4 separate regions of the Homo sapiens genome follow, and all the other regions are linked to region 4. The links come from fine-mapping of genetic effects on gene expression. A gene starts in region 4. Each other region holds a variant in brackets. All regions are shown on one strand. Distances are between the middles of the regions.

Region 1 (5,153 bases), 46 kb before region 4:
GCACCTGCAGCAGAAAGGACACTGGGGGCAAGAGAAAGAACACAAGATTTAGCACCACTTGAGAAGCAGTCTGTAGGAGAAAATACTAGGGTCACCAAGACTCATGACCAACCAGTTGAGGAGGAGGATGGTTACCAGGGGGAGGACCCTGAGTCACCATTCACACAGAGTGATGAGGGGTCTTCTGAAACTCCCAACAGCCTGGCTTCAGAGGAAGGCAATAGCAGCTCAGAGACAGGTGAACTGCCTGTGCAAGGGGACTCCCAGAGTCAAGGGGACCAACATGGAGAGTCTGTGCAAGGAGGTCACAATAATAACCCAGATACCCAGAGGCAGGGAACACCTGGTGAGAAAAACAGAGCTCTGGAGGCAGTGGTACCAGCAGTCAGAGGAGAGGATGTACAGCTCACAGAGGACCAGGAACAGCCTGCCAGAGGAGAACACAAGAATCAAGGCCCAGGGACCAAAGGCCCAGGTGCAGCTGTGGAGCCCAATGGACACCCAGAAGCACAGGAATCCACAGCAGGAGATGAAAATAGAAAGTCCCTGGAAATAGAGATCACAGGTGCCCTGGATGAAGACTTCACTGACCAGCTTTCCCTAATGCAGCTCCCTGGAAAGGGAGATAGCAGAAATGAATTAAAGGTCCAAGGCCCAAGTAGCAAAGAAGAGAAAGGAAGAGCAACAGAGGCCCAGAATACTCTGTTAGAAAGTCTAGATGAGGACAATTCAGCCTCCCTCAAGATACAACTTGAAACAAAGGAACCTGTAACATCAGAGGAGGAAGATGAAAGTCCCCAAGAGCTGGCAGGAGAAGGTGGTGACCAAAAAAGTCCAGCCAAGAAAGAGCACAATTCTTCAGTCCCCTGGTCAAGTCTTGAAAAGCAGATGCAGAGAGACCAAGAGCCCTGTTCTGTGGAGAGGGGTGCAGTCTATTCCAGTCCACTATACCAGTACCTACAGGAGAAGATACTGCAGCAAACAAATGTAACCCAAGAGGAGCATCAAAAGCAAGTTCAGATAGCCCAGGCATCAGGCCCAGAGCTTTGCAGTGTATCCCTCACCAGTGAGATCTCAGATTGTTCTGTCTTTTTCAACTACAGCCAAGCATCACAACCATATACCAGGGGACTTCCACTTGATGAGAGTCCTGCTGGTGCACAGGAAACACCAGCTCCCCAGGCCTTGGAAGATAAGCAAGGTCACCCTCAGAGAGAGAGGCTGGTACTACAAAGGGAGGCAAGCACCACAAAGCAATGAATCATTATCATCTCAACATGCCCCCAATTTCTCTCCCAATCACCCTCAATACTCACGTGTACACATTCAGATGCAGATTAACAATCTTTTAAATTCTCTTCCTAAATTTCTACAAAAACAAATAATAAAATATTCAGCAGTGGGGGACACCACTAAAGAAACATCTGAGCAAACAAATACAGTCAGTAAAACTCCTACCAAACAATGCTACTTCCAAATGCCAAAATGGGCTTTGTCATGAGACAGTTTATCTCAATGTACCTGTCATTAAAAATGGAAAAATTCCTTCCATATCTTTAGCAGGTGCCAGTTTTTCCAACTGATTCATTGAATTTAAAATAGAGCAGTAGGAAATTATAAGACTCTGCAATAATATCTCATAATCATAAAATATTAATTCATATATATAGATTACTCTGCTTCATGACATTTCCTAGAAGTATTTCAAGTTCATCCTAAAATTTTATCCTTCAAAATAATTTTAGACAATGCCATAACTTAATTATGATTTTCTAGCACTTGATTAAAGTAAATTTATGACTCTGCTCATGTTCAGGTGCAGCTGAATCTATCGCCATGGATTCATTCTTTCAATTACTCATCCAACAAATTTTTATTAAATCCCACTCCTTACACAAACTTTTCATAGCTTTTGGCTCAAATAAACAATCAAGAATAATTATGAGAGAAAACACAAATCTAAAGTATGTTTGATTTTATAAGAAGCTCTTGTAACCAACCATCCAGTGAGTCTACTAAGTGTTTACCTATATGGTTTGATGAGGGTATTAAATTAAAATTGATAATTAAACAACCTGATGATCAATTTCTTTTGTTGGGTCATTTTTTTCCCCTCATTCTCCGTCTTGCCTTGGAGACACTGATCAAAAACGAAAACAATCTTAGTTATTTGTGTTTTTTCAAAAGACTATAATTAAAGTATGATGCTCTTCAAGCTTAGTCATGACCCAGGAAAGGAATAAAATTGTTATCATACAATGTTTCCTGAAGCCAAAAAGCAGTCCAATACTCCATCTCCCATTGCATTCTGCCTTCGAGGTTCAGTATTCTTCCACTTCAACCTTCACATTTTCCAGAGCCTAAAATCCAAGTATATAACCTCCCCCTCCAATATTT[T/G]CAGCTCTTTTCATTCTACACTCAAATATGAATTATATCCCTATCTGAAAAAAATATTACTTTAAATGAGCAAGAAACATGAGACAATTCATAAAAAAGAAAAATATATATATTTCTTTTAGTTTGTCCATGCTCTAATATACATACACATACACAAACATACATATGTACTACACTAGAGCATAGACTTACTAAAGGAAAAAATTATATACATAATTTTTAGTTTATAAAATTATATACATAATTTTTAGTTTATAAAATTATATACATAATTTTTAGTTTATAAAATTATATACATAACTTTTAGTTTATAAAATTATATACATAACTTTTAGTTTATAAAATTATATACATAATTTTCAGTTTATAAAATTATACACTAATTTTTAGTTTATAAAATATACATAATTTTTAGTTTATAAAATTATATATAATTTTTATTTATATATAATTATAGATAATTTTAGTATAAATAAATATATACATACTAGAGCATAAACTCGTCATCCCTTTTGGCAAGCAATGTGGCAATAAGTATCTGAGTCCATAAAAATGAAAAACTTCATTATTAATAAATTCACAAAAGAAGCTATACAGATGGCCAATAAACATTCGAAATCCTCACTAGAATTGAAGAAAATGTGAATGACAAAACAGCTCCAGTGGCAGTGGTGCTGGCAGTCATAGAAAAGGATGCACAACTCACAGAGGAACAAGAACAGCCAAAAAGCAGAAACGTTTACCTATATGGTTTGCTGACGGCATTAAATAAATGGGCAGTGGCTCATGCCTGTAATCCCAGCACTTTGGGAAGCCAAGGCAGGAGGATCACTTGAGCTCAGGAGTTTGAGACAAGCCTGGACAACATAGTGAGACCTAATCTCTACTAAAATAGAAAAAGAAATCAAAATTTTCTGTACTAAGCATATTTTATTTTCTTAACTGAAAAAATTAAAAACTTAATAGCAACAATTTTTAAACACTCTCTTAGCATTCCAGCAATCAGCACTAATAGAATGGTGGGCAGAAAGAAGAAAAGTTTGCTGAATATATATATATATATATATATATATGTTTTTGCCATCATCCTTCAAGAAGTATTCCTTTGAAGGTGATGTTGCCCTCCATCCAACAAGCCTAAAGACCTCCAGCTTCCACAGTTTTGGACATCGGGCATTGATGACTGTCTTTCATGAAATACTCCCTTCAGTGGTCTTTCCCCATCTCCCTAGTTAATTCCTCTCATCCAGTGCCCAAGACTGTGCCCCCTTTCCAAGGACTCTTCTTTTTATGAACTTTCTCCTCGTGAGAACCCATGCTTGGTCCAACTTACTATTATCTCTTTCACACTGATGAGTCTCAATTCACCTTGTTCAAACCTGACTGTGCACTTCAATCCAGTCTCTACAAATGCTCACAGATATGACGCCTTCTATTGTCAACCACTTCCAGACAAACTGGCTTGTCTTCTCAATTTCCTTCCTACTGTCATTCTCTCAATCTTCATTCTATCATGCTTCAAAGGCACAAACTTTGGAATCATCATTTACCTTGTCTTATTCTTCATATCTAATCCACTTTGTTATCTCAATAGTTTTTCTTTTTTTTTAACTTCTTGCCTTTTAATAATATCTTTGAATATAGATGGTTTCAATTCTCCAATAACAAGATGTAGAGTGGTCAAATGGTTTTTCATACATGTTTTCCTAGTCCAGACACCCAAAAGTATGTCCCTCTCTTGGGCATAAGAAAACCTAGAGTTATATTTAGGGCATCATGTGTGGTGAATAGTTGACCGAGCTGGCATGCTCACAATGACCAAATTATGTTTGTCATATTTTAATCCAATACATTGATCTACTATGAACTTGTAAATAATGTATTTGCTTTCTAGACACATTCCAGGAAGACCAGAGAAACTGACTTTTATCCATATGGAATAATCCACTGGCAAATTTCTTTTAGGACAGACCAAAGCTGATCTAGAACATAATCTTTACATACTTGGATCCTTCCCATCAAACAAGAAAGAACATCTGGGGTGAAAGGCTCCATTAGAAGAGTAATGTGGGATGGTGCTGTGCTGACAACTGGTAGTTCCTGCCCTACATCTTTGTAGAGGACTGGAGCCCAGAGCATGCCATGGTCAACTTGTATGCTGAAGTGAAGAACTCCTTCAAGGTGTGCATGTGCTTATTACAGATATGCCATGGTGCTAAGTACCCCAGGACTACAGGAAAAAATAAGAATAGATGCTGTATCCATGATCATGAGGCACACAGGCCAGAGCGCCAGCTGTGGAATCACACAGCCCAGGTTCAAAGCCTGGCTGGGCCATGACCACCTGAATGACCTGAGGAATGGTCTCAGGCAAATTTGTAAAAAGTGGAGACACTGCCTGCCAGGGAGGCATGTGGTAAGAGGCGCATCCAGTCAGGTCAGGGCACCGCGTCCTCTCTTTGGAAACCTGCGGAGCGGGGCTGGTGGCCCTTGAGGCCACAGCAGCCATGGAGAAGGCGGGCCTGGCTCCAGGCGGCACAGAGGCACTGGAGAGGACCCGGGGGAGCCTAGCGGGATCTGGCTGGTCCTGCGCTCTGCTTCCAGGTTCTGGCCCTGTAACCCGGGAGACAGGGCCGGCCAAGACAGGGCCACTGGGTGCCAGCCAGCACCTGGGCCGGGCGCCAGGCGGAAGGGCTCTGGCAGATCAGCCCCGCACCCCCAACAGCCCCACAGGGGGGCCCATCCAGGGCCACACA
Region 2 (5,153 bases), 760 kb before region 4:
TGTGTGGCTGTGGGTGCAGTGTAGACATCTACACAAGTAAAACCCTGGAAGTATAACCCGGCCCAGGACCAGGCCCTGCGAGATGGGACTGTTGAAACTATTTAGCCTGTACCATTTTTTAAACCATAAAGCTGGAAGATGAAAAAGAATTAGTTACAGAAGAATTAGTTGGTTGTGAAAGTCAATAAAGTAACACAAAAAAGAGAAAATGTGCCTGACAGAGAGACTGAAACATTGTAGGCTCTGAATAAGTGAAACATTCATAACTTGCTGAATACAGAATGAAGATACTGATCTTTGTTTAACAAACGAAGCACAGCTTTTTTCTAATGAGAGTGAGTCTGGCTGTTTGGTGATCTGTTTGCTTTTAAATAGCCCTTTTCTTCTGGTGGGGTCCTTGATGTGTCAGCACTGAGATGTGAACAAGGAAGCAGCTCATTAGAGAAACAAGAAGCAGCAGCTCTGCTCTTTGTATTGGTGTGAGAATTTGGACTTTTCTGGGTTCACACTGGGAGCACCGGATGATGGTCACAGATGAGAAACAGGAAGAAAAGAGACATGGTTGTGAGACATTATAAGTCTACGCTTCCATGTGGGGTCAAATGGCTGGCAGAACCCCGTCCTGGACCATAAGGGGACGGGTGCCTTTTAAGAACAAGAGTCCTTAATATTTAATGTGAATGTGTTTATGCTGCTACTTTGGAAGCCCCTCTCCTCTCTCTCCACTAGAATCACTAGCTTTCTACATGTCCACAGGATTTATATGAATGGAGTGTTCTGAATTTATACATTTTTAGGATATTAATGAAATGGGCTGCTGTTCATTCTAGGACACACTAGTCACTAAGACAGCCATGACTGCAAGGTTATCCACAAATTAAACTATTTCTTCAGAGGAAGACCAAGAAAAGCCAGATTAAACCATATGAGGGACAAGTCCTCTTCTTCCCAGCCCCTGACAGACTCTGGATATGCCCAGAACTTGGGAATGATATCTAGGTCAAAATGGACATGGTGACCCTAACCAAAACGTGGTGGAGATACATGTATATTTATAAACACATATACAGAGCATACATATTGAGAGAGATGTATATGTGTGTGTACCACCTGTCTCAGAGCATCAATTATTACAGCTGCCCAGACTCCTGTGATAACGTAGTATCTCCAAACACTGTAGTGTGTCTTTGATTCTGTTCTTTTATGACATCCAAGAAAACATCTTCCATCCCTGTACATAATTAACACTAAATCATTAGTAAAGTCTTGTTCATGATTGCACACTGTATAAGGGTAAATGTCCAAATTCCTTCAGTGAAATAAGACTCTGTGTTCTCCCTTTAGTTTAAGCCTTTGTCATCTACTCTCAGAAATGTTCTGAAACTGAACTGGATTATATTCTGTACTTTGATTATGCTTCTCCCTGCAGTGCATGCCGTGGCCTCTACCCTTCCAGGACAGTGTGGCTCAATCCCACTTTTTTATTTATCCTTCATGTGGCATATCACTCTAATGAGATAACAGTAAATGCTTTGATGGCCTGCCTTGGGTGTTTCATACTTCTTACCTCCGTTTTTCAACACAGAGCTATGTGCACAATGGATATTTAATGACTTTTAAATGCTCTCATTGGTATTAGCATTGATTTACAGTTTATAAACAGCTATTCCTTATGACTCAGGCCACCCTCATAGGAGACACACTCTGAGACAGGCTCAGTGAGGTGTGTGGGCCACATCACCCTGAGAGGTCTGACACCATCCCTCCTGGGTATGACATTTGTTCTCCTGCTCAGATTGTTCCAAAGGGCTTAGTAATGGGGGAGTGGTCAGGACATTGGTTCCCAGGTCGTCACAATGGCAGGTCTACTCAGAAGTTCAACTCCTGGTATCTAGGATGATAGGGCTGGGATACCATCTGGTCCATGCCTCTGTCTTCATGCAGGGCAACACCCAAGCTCTCAACTGACATAACTCAGATGTAGGTGTTGAGTCAGCAACATAGTTGTATTAGGAAGATTGGAACTTGAATCTTGGCTATGAGATATCATGGCTTAGCTATTAGGTCAAATAAGATATCTTGTCCAGCAAAGCACTGACTTTCTGAAATTTCCT[A/G]TTTGTCAAGGTTTTTCTCTTTTAGGTAGTCAAAAATTCACCGTCTCATGGGATGTGAGTGAATACTATTGCGATCTAACCAGAAATAATTCAAATGGAATAATTTTTTGTATGTGTTCTATAACCAGTAACAAGTTAAGTTAGTAATCTTTGTTTTGTTCTTTCCATATCTACAACCCTTTAAACAATTACAGTGATGAGAAAATACTATTAAAGTCTAGAAGAAAATTCTATTCTATTTAAATAGTATATTTTAAAAATATTTTTATTGCTGTTGTTGTTATGATTGTTAATATATTGATATACTGCAACTGTGTTGAACTCTCCTAAATTTTTGCAGTGAATACTTTCCTAAAAAAATTGGTAAAATACATAATCCAAAATTTACTGTCTTAATCATTTTTTTAGTGCACAGTTTAGTAATGTTAAATAGCATCACATCGTTGTGTAGCCAATCTCTAGAATTTTTGTCTTCTTGCAACACTGAAACTCTACGCTCATTAAACAACAGTTCTCTCTTACTCCCTCTCCCCAGCCCCTGGCAATCACCATTTTACTTTCTTTTTCTATGAAATGGACTACACCCCATATCTCACATAAGTGGAATCATACAGTGTTTGTCTTTTTGTGACTGGCTTATTTGATTTAGCATATCTTTAGGATTCATTCATATTGTAGCATGTGCATAAATTTCTTACCTTTTTAAGGCCATATAATATCACATTGTATGTGTATGCCTCCTTTTGCTTCTATAATCATCCAGCAGTGAATGCTTGGATTGCTTCCACCTTTTAGCTATTGTGAATAATAAAGCTATGAACGTGGGTGTACAAGTACCCTGTCAAGACTCTACTTTCAATCTTTTTGTATTGTATATACCCACAAGTGGAATTGCTGGACCCTATGTTAATTCTATTAACTTTTTGAGGAATCACCATGCTCTTTTTCATAGTAATTATACCATTTTATATGCTCACCAACAGTGCACAAGGGTTCTAATTCCTCCACATCCTCACCAACACTTGTTATTTTCTGTTTTGTTTTGCTTTATTTTTTATAGTAGTCATTCTCTCGGGTTTGAAGTGATATCTTACTGTGGGTTTTACTTTAAATAATTTAATCTAATTATGAATGGTGTTGAGCATACTTTCATGTGTCTTTTGGCTATTTGTAAATTTCTTTTGGATAAGTGTCTATTCAAGTTTTTTTTTCCATTTTTAATAAGGTTGTTTGTTTACTTGTTGTTTAATTGTGGGGGTTCTTTACATATTTTGTATAGCAACCCACTACCAGATACACGATTTGCTAATATTTGCTCCCATAACAAAGATTTCCTTTTCATGGTATTGACTTTGTTCACTGATTCACATACATTTCTAATGTTTATGTAGTCTAATTTATCTATTTTTACATTTGTTGCCTGTGCTTTTGGTATCATAGTTAAGAAATCATTGTCAAATCCAATGTCATGAAGATTTCCTCCTATGTTTCCTTTTAGAAATTTTGTAGTTTATTTATTTATTTATTTATTTTGAGATGGAGTCTTGCTCTGTCGTGCAGGCTGGAGTGCAGTTGCATGATCTTGGCTCACTGCAACCTCCACCTCCCGGGTTCAAGCGATTCTCCTGCCTCAGCCTCCCAAGTAGCTGGGACTACAGGTATGCACCACCATACACAGCTAATTTTTGTATTTTTAGTAGAGATGGGGTTTCACCATGTTGGCCAGCCTGGTCTCTATCTCTTGACCTTGTGATCTGCCTGCCTTGGCTTCCCAAAGTGCTGGGATTACAGGGGTTAGCCACCACGCCCAGCCTGTAGTTTTAACTCTATGTTTATGTCTTTGATCCTTAATGAGTTAATTTTTGTGTATGGTGTAACCTGAGGGTCCAGCTTCATGCTTTTGCATGTGCATATCTAAATTTCCCAACACCACCTGTTGAAAAGATTGTCCTTTCTCCATTGAGTGGTATTGGCACCCTTATCAAGAATCATTTTAATCAGCTAGGCATGATAGTTTGTGCCTATAGCTCCAGCTACTCGGGAGGCTGAGACAGGAGGATTGCTTGAGTCCAGGAGTTTGAGTCCTGCCTGGGCAACATAGCAAGATCCTGTTTTTGGACAAAAAAAGAATAATTTGACCATATATATGAAGGTTTATTTATTTTAAGTTTCTCTGCTACTCTTCTATTCTATTTCATTGACCTATATGTCTATCTTTATGCCAATAACACATTATTTTCATTATGGTTGCTTTGTTGTAATAAATTGTGTTAATTTACTTTTATTTTTTTTTAGAGACAAGGTCTCACTATGTTGCTCAGGCTTGTCTAGAACTCCTGGGATCAAGGGATCCTCTATCCTCTGCCTCCTGAGTGGCCGAGACTACAGGTATGCACCACTATGTCTGTCTGTGATAAGTTTTAAAGTCAGGAAGTATGTGACTCTAACTATATTTTTCTTCTTCAGCATTGGTTTGGCTATTTGAGGAATAATTCACAATTAGTCAAGGTGTATAATCCTTTTGATATGCTGTTGAGGATTTTTATCATCCCTCAATATCATCAGAGATATTGTTATGTAGTTTTCTGGCTTTGGCATCAGGATAATGCTGGCCTCAGAGAACGAATTCATAAATGTCCTCATTTCTTCAATTTTTTGGAAGCATTGAGTAAGATTTGTGTTGATTTCTCTTCAAATGTTTGGTAGAATTAATGAGTGAAGCTGTCTGGTCCTGCACTTTATTCTGTTGGCAGAGTTTTGATCTTTGCTAGTTATAGGTCTTTTCAGATTTGTTTCTAGGGATCTATCCATTTCATCTAGGTTATCCAATTTAGCATACAATTGTTCATGGTATTCTCCTATAATTTTTTATTTCTATAAGTTAGTTGTAATGCCTTCCCTCTCATTTTTATTTTAGTTCTTTGATTCTTCTCTTTTTTCTTCTTCAAGCTAGTGAAAAGTTTATCAGTTTTTGTGGTCTTCTCAAAGAACAAACTTTTGGTTTTGTTGATTTTCACTATTGATTTTTCTAGTTTTCAC
Region 3 (5,153 bases), 610 kb before region 4:
CTGGCTTTACTCAAGAGGGGACTTAATCCTCCATGGTAGCTCCCTGACCACCATACCCTGGGATCTGAAAATAGTTGAAAGGAAAACTTGGCAAGAACTCTCATCCTTAAGGATGAGAAATATTTTTAAATAGAGGAGTCCCAATTCCAGAATAGGCAAACAAACAAACAGCAACAACAACAAATACCCAGAAAACCCACCCTGGCAAGACTAATCTAGGTTAAAAAAAGAGAAGTTATCATCAAATATTATAAATTAAAAAGTTATGTATCTTCATAACAATAATAAAGCAGAGAACAAAATATAAAAATGAAAGACTGTCAATAACTATACACTGCCAACGTTGAAAGCTTAGACAAAATGGAAAACATACATTAAAAAGTATAATCTAGTAAAATAAGCTCAAGAAGAGACAAAAAGTATGAATTCTCTTATAACTAGTTGAGAAACTAAAGTACTATTAAGAAACATAGAAAACAATGGCCAAAATTGTTTTCTAGGCGAACAGTACAAAACTATAAAGGAGTAGATCGTTTCAAATTTATTTAAGGATATTGGGCATAAAAATTCAATCATTTTGAAAAACAGATTAGCTCTCCATTATAAATTTAAATTCTTAGCTACTAAATACACCAAGATTCAGCAATTCTGCTCCTAGAAGACATGTACAAGAATGCTTAGAGTAAACATCTGAAAACCACAAAACTGCCAAATCCAGAGATGTCCTTTGGTTTTGCACAGACACACTTACCAGGATGAGTCTCAGAATTAGCTCAGGCTGCAGAGGTGTCCAAAAGGAGGAAGAAGAAGAACCAGGGACACCTTTCATAGGAGGAGTCCCCAGGCTGGGCTCAGAAATGAGCCTTGTCTCTGGAAAGAGCAGGAGAAAATCTCTCACAACCAAGGAACACTTAGGGCCATTCCTGACATTCTCCTTCCAAAAGAGCTGTAGGAGCACTCCAGCCTCTCAATGGGGCCCAAGACCTGTGGGCCTTCAACGAGCCACACCCTTTCCCAAATATAAGCCTCAGATAGCCTGAGATCCCAAGAACCTGGTCACTGGGCTGAGGCTCTAAGGCCTGGGTCGCTGCGTGCCAGTCCCTTCTCATGAAATAGGTGGTCACATCTTTCTTGCCAAGCTTTGTGAGGTGGGGCTTAGATGAGACAAATAGGAAAGAGAGGATAGAAAACTTTAAGAGAGTTTTTTCAAAAGAATCTACAAGACTGGATGTCCCTTTGTGTATATGTGATGGGGAAAAGGGATAGATCAAAGATTATACCAAATGTCTTGACCAGATATCAAATGTCTTGACCAGAGAAATAATCATATGGTGGAAAGAGAACAAATATTGGGAGGGGTGTAGATTTGAGGTCCTAGCAAGACCTTCTGATGAATGAAGAGGTTCTGGAGACATTTAGAGATACCACCTTGGAGGTTATTGATTCCCAGTCTAAAGGGACTTGGAGATAAACTTCTGAAATCATCACCCTGGCATTCATCATTATTTACTCATCCATCTAACATAATTATTTATTTATTTGAACAACCACTTTACGGGGACCCAAGAGGATGAAAACAGGGTTTCTTTACTCAGCAGCTCTCACATTCTGATAGGATCAGAATTATAGAAATAAACACACATATCTTATAATGTTTTAAAATACTAGTAAGAAATCTTATGGAGTAGGGACAACTTTGTGAAATAGTATGCTGTTTCATATGCATTTCAGTACATGGAACAGTGAGAAGGCACACTAAATACTTGGACACCGGTGAGTGTAATGAAGTGCTTCTCTATCCCCTGCCACCAAAAACCAGGGGAATTGGCTTTTTTGTGCTTTTGTACCCACCGCCAATTAAGTATATAAGTGTGTGTGTGTGTGTGTGTGTGTGTGTGTACATGCATGGATGATGGATGCACACACACACACACCACATGTAAATGCCCATACACTTCAGTCCTGCCTCTCACTCCATCATGGTTGCTACAAACATCTCTTCACAGAGAATGAGGAAACTCAGGCTGA[C/T]AACACCAAAGAAAAATTTGGACTAATGAAAGTATCTCACATATCTCATTGCAAAGTAGTGATTCAGGAGATGAAATTCAGAGCCACCTGCTTTGGACCTCATGGGCTTTTCTCATGCAAAGAAGTGCTTCAGAGATTCTAGTGGACTGTGAGCTTCTCAAGGTTAGAGGTTGTGTCTGATTCACATCCAAATCCCAAATTCCAGACTGATGTCCACAGACCTCATCTGGTGTGCTAAATGAATGTCCATTTAACCAAACACTTTGTTCATTTTTTAAATCTATTTTACATTTGGCCTGAAAGCTTGTGGAGGGTAGGGACCTTGTCTGAAAATAGGTAATAAATAAATAGAGAATGGAGCACCTCTAAAAGAGACTTTTAGAGGTCATATGTTTCTCCTTATTTGGGAACCTCAGTGAGGGAGTGGCCACTGCCATTTAGTTCACAGCTTTATTCTGCTCCTCAAACAATGAATGGTACAATGACTGCCTTCAATAAATGAAAAAATCTGTCTAACCCAACTCTTCCCTGATTTTTCAATGTCAAGTGTACTCAATCCCTCAGTCAATGTCATCTCCCATTCCTCATTCCCAGGGATAACTGGACTCCAGATTTAGAAGCTCCCCAGGATGGCAAGCCCTTCTCAGGCCACTTGTTAGAGTTTAGGGATAAGCTCCTTAAAAGTAGCAACCGTAAGTGACCATCTTTCAACCCCCCATAAGGCCTAGATGCTGTCAATTTGTTTTAGCATGCATTATTGAGCATCTTCTACGTACAAAACACATGCTACATATTTTCATTTCTTAATGTTCAAATCAATGAGTATTAGGGTACTCATTGATCATTTTAAAAAGAACACAGATGCCTAGGAAACATGAGTGATATTTCAAAGGTCACGAGTTACAGCTAGAATTGACACCAGGTTTCCTGACTATAGTTACAGAGACATGACCTCTATAGCCTGCCTTCCTCTTGCCAAATTAAGAAAGAGTTAATTGTTTTGACTAAATCAGCTCAGTCATCACTATCCTCACAAGTAAAATAAATCAGAATAGCACAGCTGCTCCTCAGAGGACAGCTGAGGGAGAAGCAGAGACCCAGAGTCCACCCTGAAGGACAGGTCCCAGGAAGGATGGCTGGGTGGGGAGGGTTCTTCCTAATTCAAAACTCCAGAACAACCAGCCTAGGAATGGCTGGTACCTAAAGCAGGACCTCAAAGACAAACCCCAAGCGTGGGGGAAATCAGAACGGAATGTTTCCACAATGAAAAATAAAAATAAAAAATAAAATATGGCTTTGACCTGAGTTTTCCCAAAGAACAAATAGCATCTTTATCCAGACATTGGCTCCCTGTGCATCCCAAGTTAACCCTTCAGAGCTCCAGCCTAGAAGAGGGTGCAACTGGATAAAGCGTGTCTAGACCCTAGCCCCAGAGAGGGGTCCTGGGAGCTCCCAAGGCCTCCTTGAATTGCAGGGACAAGGAGAGAGGGGAATGTCACAGATCACCGAGCACATGCCTGGTTGGACAAGAGCCACTTCCTGCTCTTACTGGAGCCAAGCCTGGGTCTATAAAAGACACATACCCAGCTCCAGCACCTCATCTGCTCTGACGCCCTAGGGACATGTCTGTGCTCTTTTGTGTGACCAGGATGAATGAGAACCTGGGAGACCAGAGGGGTTGGAGAAGGACAGAGAGATTGGAGGAAGTAAAGAGTCTTAGGAAAAAGAGTTATGTATTTGATTTCTGCCATACTGAACAGGAATAAAATTCAGAGGGAGAGGAAACTATTGCCTTGTGGCTTAAGATGTCAGTGGCACTTTGCCACTCTGGAAACTGCCCTGGGCCAAAAGGCAAGTGTGCCAACCTCATCTATTTTAGGGGCTTGTTTTTATAATAATATGGTGGCACTTCAGAGAGTTTTGAATGCTGCATGCAGGACTATGAAGACTGAGAAATCCTTGTGTCCTATTATAAAGGAGAATAAGATGTTGTTTACTACATCTGCATTTAAAATCTATGTACTTTTAATTAGAGGAAAGATTTATATGTTTCCTCTGGATGCTTATTTATGTTTTCTAAATATCATTTACTATCGCCCTTCATACTCATTCTAGAGCAGGTAAAAAACATGCCCCTTGATTTAACTAATCCATACCATGTCATTATTCTCTTCCAGGTTGATTGAACACCTGCCCAGATGTCCTGCCAGCAGAACCAGCAGCAGTGTCAGCCCCCTGCAAGTGCCCTTCCAAGTGTACTCTGAAATGCCCCCCAAACTGTCCATCCCAGTGCACAGCACTATGCCCAGTCTCTTCCTGCTGCAGCTCTAGCTCTGGGGGCTGCCGTGGCTCCAGCTCTGGGGGCTGCTGCAGCTCAGGAGGTGGTGGCTGCTGCCTGAGCACTACAGGTGCCACAGGTCCCACTGCCACAGACCCCAGAGCTCCAGCTGCTGTGAATGTGAGCCTTCACAGGGCTCCAGCTGCTGCCACAGCTCTGGGAGCTGCTGCTGCCTTGGGTCCTGAGGACCTCTGAAGTACACATGGGACAAAGCATCAAACAATTTGCTTCTCATTCTTCCATTCCCTCATTTTGACATCCTGGGGATGGTAGATCACAAAGCTAATGTAGGCATTTCCACACGTAGAACATTCTGTTTATCTTCCATTTTCTTTGCAAAAATAAAGTTCCTGTTTCCTACTTAAAGTGTGCCCCGGTCACTCTCTCAGCCCTGCATAGTCCACAATCATCAGTGAGCCCTTCTTCAGAGAGCCTGAGGCCAAGGCAGAGCTTGACTAAGGGGTGGGTAACTAGGCAGCTTCCCAGGGTTTGTGTGTGTGTGTGTGTCTGTGTGTGTGTGTGTGTGTGTGTCTGTGTGTGTGTGTGTGTGTGTGTGTGTGTGAAATATGAGATATAAGAAAACATCACCAGAAGTGTAGTGACACTGAGGAATATGTACTCAGCCGAGCTTGTTTGGAGGAGTGAGCTTATGTAACAGAAGAAATGGAAAGCAGATAGAAGTGAAAATATGCTATTTGATCGCAGTGTAGGTTCATAAGCAGTCTTCTAATTATAGACATACCTGTCATTGCAAATAGCTTTAGTGTTTGTCACAGATACTGCTTTT
Region 4 (5,153 bases):
AAATTTCATAGCTTCCACTTACTCATGATGTCTTCTCCATAAGTTTTATTTGCCATGACTTCATGGTTCTGTCTATGCAAATGTTCAGCTTCAGCTCTTCTAAATGCCTAATTTTCTATGTGCTTCTAATTTCAGTTTCCCAAAAACAAGAAGCTTTTTGGCCCTAGTTCATCTTTCCATGTTATGTCATGAAACATCCACTACCAGCCATCCTATAGATTGGCAGTGCTGGTGTCCAGACTAACTTCAACCCAGTCCACTCTAACAGGGTCACAGTGTGTCAAATCATGCAAAACTTGGCCACCTGGGCTGCCCCTTGAGCACAGGTTCTAAGTGAGGCATTTTCTCTTAAAAAGAACTATAGTGGCCGGGCGCAGTGGCTCTCACCTGTAATCCCAGCACTTTGGGAGGCTGAGGAGGGCAGATCACGAGGTCAGGAGTTCCAGACCAGCATAACCAACATGGTGAAACCCCGTCTCTACTAAAAATACACAAAAAATTAGCAGGGTGTGGTGGCGCACACCTGTAATTCCAGCTACTCAGGAGGCTGAGGCAGGAGAATCGCTTTAACCCGGGAGGCGGAGGTTGCAGTGAGCTGAGATCACCCCGTTGCACTCCAGCCGCCTAGGCAACAAGAGTGAAACAACGTCTCAAAAAAGAAAAAAAAGAAAAGAACTGTGGTGTGTAAGGCCTCATGATTGAGTTATGGAGTAATTTAGACAAATGATTCCTTAATATGTTGGGATCATAAATTTTTCTGAGAATCAGATGAAAGATGTGGACTCTTCGCCAGAAAAATTTCTCTTATGCAAAAAATTTACATGTAACTTTAAGGTATTAAGGAACCCCAGCAGCCGTTCATGTAACACCCCCCACCACCAAAGGTTTGAAGTCTATTACCTGGCACTTGATAAGAACTGTGAGTCAAAAAGGCATTTAGACTCAGTGGCTCCAATGCTTTCAAGCAGGGAAAATGGTAGAGTGATAGTACCCTTAGCAGAGAAGACAGAAACAGGTTTGGGGAAAACTAGTTATTCCTGAATTATTGAGTCTGAAGTGCAGGTGGGACTCTCAAGTGGATTCATAAACAAGTAACTGAAAATGTGGGTCTGGAGTAGCTGAGAACTGAGATGGAGATTTGTCTCACGTGCTCAGGGCACCTGTGAGAGCAGGTGCAGGGAAGCAGTTCACACAATGCCTATAGCCCATTATCTTTCATTTGCGTCTACTCTGCAGTTTTTGGAGACCTTTCTAAGCCCTCACTTTACTTGACAGTCCTAACAATCTTATGAAACAGGAAAGGCCTATCTCAAGACCTATTACAAATAAGGAAGTGGAAGCTCAAAGGAGTGACAAGTCTGGTCAAAAGTATTGCAATGAAGTAACAGACACAAGACTGGAACCCAAGTCTTCTGATTCTTAATACAACTCCTAATTTCATTGCAAACTGCACACAGATAAATGCCTTACTAGCACGGATCAATTTTTAAGTGCAGTAGTTTGGTTTTCGGATTTTGTCTTTGTGGCTGTCCTCAGTTTACAGAAAAGTTTGAGAGAGAGGGGTGGCAATTGTCCCTTGACAATAATCCCCAGTAATCCCGTGGCAATTGATTTGGCAATACTCACCACTGTTTACTGTTAAATATCTTCCCTGTGGAGCAATAGAGAGCCCCAACTCCTAGGAACTTGTCTACAATTCTGACCCGCACTCTGTCCTAACTAACACTCTTGGTTTTGTTTTTTGTTTGTTTGTTTTTGAGATGGAGTCTTGCTCTGTCGCCCAGGCTAGAGTGCAGTGGCGCGATCTCGGCTCACTGCAAGCTCTGCCTCCGGGGTTCACGCCATTCTCCTGCCTCAGCCTCCCGAGTAGCTGGAACTACAGGCGCCCGCCACCACGTCCGGCTAATTTTTTGTATTTTTAGTAGAGACGGGGTTTTGCCGCGTTAGCCAGGATGGTCCCGATCTCCTGACCTCGTGATCCACCCGCCTCGGCCTCCCAAAGTGCTGGGATTACAGGAGTGAGCCGCTGCGCCCGGCCTGTTTTTGTTTGTTTTTTGAGACATTGTTCCGCTCTTGTTGCCCAGGCGGCTGGAGTGCAACGGCGCGATCTCAGCTCGCTGCAAACTCCACCTCCCGGGTTCAATCGATATTTCTGCCTCAGCCTCCCAAGTAGTTGGTATTACAGGCGTGTGCCACCACGCCAGGCTAATTTTGTATTTTTAGTAGAGACAGGGGTTTCACCATGTTAGTCAGGCTGATCTCAAACTCCTGACCTCATGTGATCTACCCGCCTCGGCCTCCCAAAGTGCTGGGATTACAGGCCTGAGCCACCGCGCCCGGCCCACTGCTGTTTCCAAAAGAGACCTTTTTTGCCTATCTAACCTAAATGCCCAGAATGAGCTCATACATGGGAAAGACCCACGGACATGGACAGACTTCCCGAAGACTACTGTGCAAAACTTATAATTCTAAAAAGTCAAAAATCTTCAGGAATCACAGGACGGGGTGGAGGGGGCCGGGGGGAAAGAGGAGGGAAAAGAGGGAAAGGAGGGAGAGTGAGACTGCTTAAATCGCTGGAGAGGACGGTGGGTTTATTTGAGTCTTAAAGCTCAGTTCTGTGGTTAGCGCCGGCCGCGGTCCCAGGCCCAGCCCGGGAGGCGGGGAGGGGCGGGGCAGGCGCGGAAGCTGTCTGAGTAAGGCTTGGGCAAGGCTGGGCCGGGAAGGGCGTGGGTTGAGGAGAGGCTCCAGACCCGCACGCCGCGCGCACAGAGCTCTCAGCGCCGCTCCCAGCCACAGCCTCCCGCGCCTCGCTCAGCTCCAACATGGTAAGCCTCACTTTTCTTCTTCTTCTTCTTACATGAAAAGAAAAAGAAAAGAAAAAAAACCCACATACTTCCCAGCAGACTTTATCTTTGACTTATGTGTGGACGTGGCAGGAAACAGCAGGAAAAATCAGCCTCGTGGGAGGGAACTGGGGAAGAAGGGATGGAAGGATGAAGCCCTAAAATCATCCTTGGGGTGGCCGCCTAGGGTAGCAGCGGAGGTTCTTTAGCCTTCCCAGTCACGACAAGGCCCAGGGCTGGGGAAGAGGAAGTGCTGGCCGCTCACCGCGCGGGGGGGGGACCCGTCGTGGGTCACTGCCTCCAGCCCCTCGCCCGCGGTCTCCCGGGAGCCCAGAGACGCCTAGGAGCAAGTTTAAGGCAGGGGGCTGGAAAGCTGCGAGGGGTCACTAGTTATTTCTGTACACCAGAAAAGGGACATTTTAGAACTTGGTCGTCTAGCCCCAGGGAAAATCAAAGTTTCAGTAAGCACCCGGCAGACGGCCAAGACCCAACGGGACTGAAACTTTAGCCCGTCGCCGCCCGCAGCGCCGCGGCCAAGAATGTGGGAGGAACCCGGTCCCAGCTGAGCCCTCTCCTCCTTCCTCTTCCTTTTACCCCACCATCTATTTAGGCACTCACTCCGTAACTTATTTTTCTCTTCTTATCTCCTTTCATCTCCCAGTTGAACTCATATTTTCCATAATTCCACCTCCAAAATCTCTTTCTTTACCTCTCCTTAGTGGAGAGTCAGCAAACTGGCCCGCGGGCCAAGTCGGGTTTTCTGTTCTGCCCACAAGCTAAGAATAAAGTTTACATTTGTAAATGATTGAAAGAAATCAAAAGAAGAAAAATACTTTCTGACATGTGAAAATTATGTGGAAATCAAACTTCAGCGTCCATAAATGAAGTATTGGAACAGAGCCACGCCCATTCCCTTCCATACTGTCTGGGGTTGCAGTCCTGCTACAGCAGGGACAGAAAGCTCCGGAGGGTGTTGGTTAAGAATGAGAAGACAATAGTTGAGGTTTTTAAAATTGCTACGTCTTTTTCATCGTATTTTTTTCTTTCCTCAAATGTTGAGCGCTTAGCATGCATTTTTAAAAATTATTTCACAGTATCCGTTTATCATAATGTTTGCTCCTTGCTATCGCCATCCCCACCAAGTAAGACTCCAAGAGTGCCATGAGGTGTGGAGAGCGCCGGTTCTCCTCTCCTTCAGCCACTGCGCCACCCTGGGCAGAGCTTTCCGGTTTCTGGGCGTCCTCAGGACCCATCTCCAAAGTGCCCTGGAGCTCTACAAATTATGCCGTTCCATTTTAGTAATTTGATAATTGTGTCTCTTTCTTTCACTTTGGAGAATTACCTCTGGGAGGAAATGCAAAGAGGTTTTAATTTTCTCCTTGTGGCTGATAGCAACAGCAACAGTTTTCAAAAGAAAATAATCTCTAAATTACACCAAGACTGATGTTAAGGAGAGAAAAATGTGAAGCAGAAAGGCACTGTGAAACTGGAAAAGCAAAACTGTCTGCATTCTGGAAGGAAAAGGGGCAGGGGGAGAATCTGTAGTTCCAGAGAAAGGTGACAAAGCCCATGCTCCTCAGCCTGGTGTGGCCTCCCAGCCAGTCTCCTTCCTGTCATCTGATACCTTAGTAAGACAGGGAGATTTTAGGCCTGATATGAAGGGCATGTTGTAACAGAACAAACACATCTGTTTCTAGGCTGTGGTATTTTGTTTCTCCCCTAAAGGCCCCTGAACCTACCAACACTTTTCTTAATGAAAAGTTCAATTTAGAGCAAAACAAAAACAATCATCCTCCAACAATGTGATTCTTGGGAAAAAGTCCACCTCTCTTAGGGTTCAGGGGTTCTAACGCTGTAAGATGCAATGGGAGGCAAGACTCAGCTAGGATCTCTGCAGCATAAAGGCTGTACAGGAAGGAGGAATCAATCTGCAGCTGTGTAGCTAAGGGCTCAGATCAGTTCTTAGCACGTGTTAATTACGGAGTGAGAAAGCCTCTAGCTCTGGCCTCCAGGAAGTCCATCCTAAGAACAAACGAAAGGCTAAATGCTAAGTTGCAAATGTCACCATCCAAACATAAATCATTGTTAACGCTAGTAGGTAAAGTCTCAGAGGAAGGGTGTGGCCAGGCCGGTTTCCCAGAAAGTCTGTAATTGCGGCTTCTACCCACCAGAGGGAGGCCAACAGCTCCTCACTTTTGGGACCCTAAGTCCCCTTGGGGAACCGGATGACTGGGCCCTATAGAATTTCCTTGAAAAATTCTGCTGTGAGGAAAGAGCCCAGTACAGGATTTAAATCTCTTACATTGTAGA

Direction of the effects. Positions count from the first base shown, and alleles are read on the strand shown. Sizes are in standard deviations (SD) of each study's normalised expression. Not every link is listed here.
For the expression in whole blood of the gene that starts at base 2,734 in region 4, G is the high allele of the variant in region 1 and T is the other (small effect, 0.25 SD a copy in GTEx).
With allele T in place of C in region 3, the expression in monocytes after LPS of the gene that starts at base 2,734 in region 4 is lower (large effect, 1.8 SD a copy in Quach 2016).

Evidence for each region. PIP is the estimated chance that this variant, and not a neighbour inherited with it, causes the effect. A credible set is the group of variants that fine-mapping cannot tell apart.
Region 1: its variant is the best candidate, but not a certain one, in a credible set for the expression of S100A11 in whole blood (GTEx, PIP 0.74).
Region 2: its variant is the best candidate, but not a certain one, in a credible set for the expression of S100A11 in B cells (Fairfax 2012, PIP 0.74).
Region 3: its variant is the best candidate, but not a certain one, in a credible set for the expression of S100A11 in monocytes after LPS (Quach 2016, PIP 0.79).

The regions. Positions count from the first base shown.
Region 1 is chr1:152,081,074-152,086,226 of GRCh38, reverse strand. TCHHL1 (trichohyalin like 1) reads left to right here. Exons shown (of 3, transcript NM_001008536.2): 3 at 1-2,086. The coding sequence ends at 1,260. Among named protein-coding and RNA genes, the nearest start is that of TCHHL1, 5.4 kb to the left of the region's middle. The variant T/G (reference allele first, on the strand shown) is at 2,398.
Region 2 is chr1:152,791,158-152,796,310 of GRCh38, reverse strand. No RefSeq gene overlaps it. Among named protein-coding and RNA genes, the nearest start is that of LCE1D, 3.0 kb to the left of the region's middle. The variant A/G (reference allele first, on the strand shown) is at 2,115.
Region 3 is chr1:152,643,791-152,648,943 of GRCh38, reverse strand. It overlaps the pseudogene LCEP4. Among named protein-coding and RNA genes, the nearest start is that of LINC00302, 9.1 kb to the left of the region's middle. The variant C/T (reference allele first, on the strand shown) is at 2,029.
Region 4 is chr1:152,034,585-152,039,737 of GRCh38, reverse strand. It overlaps S100A11 (S100 calcium binding protein A11), which reads left to right and starts at 2,734. Exons shown (of 3, transcript NM_005620.2): 1 at 2,734-2,825. The coding sequence starts at 2,823. RefSeq lists enhancers at 1,114-1,273, 4,371-4,665 and a silencer at 3,231-3,525.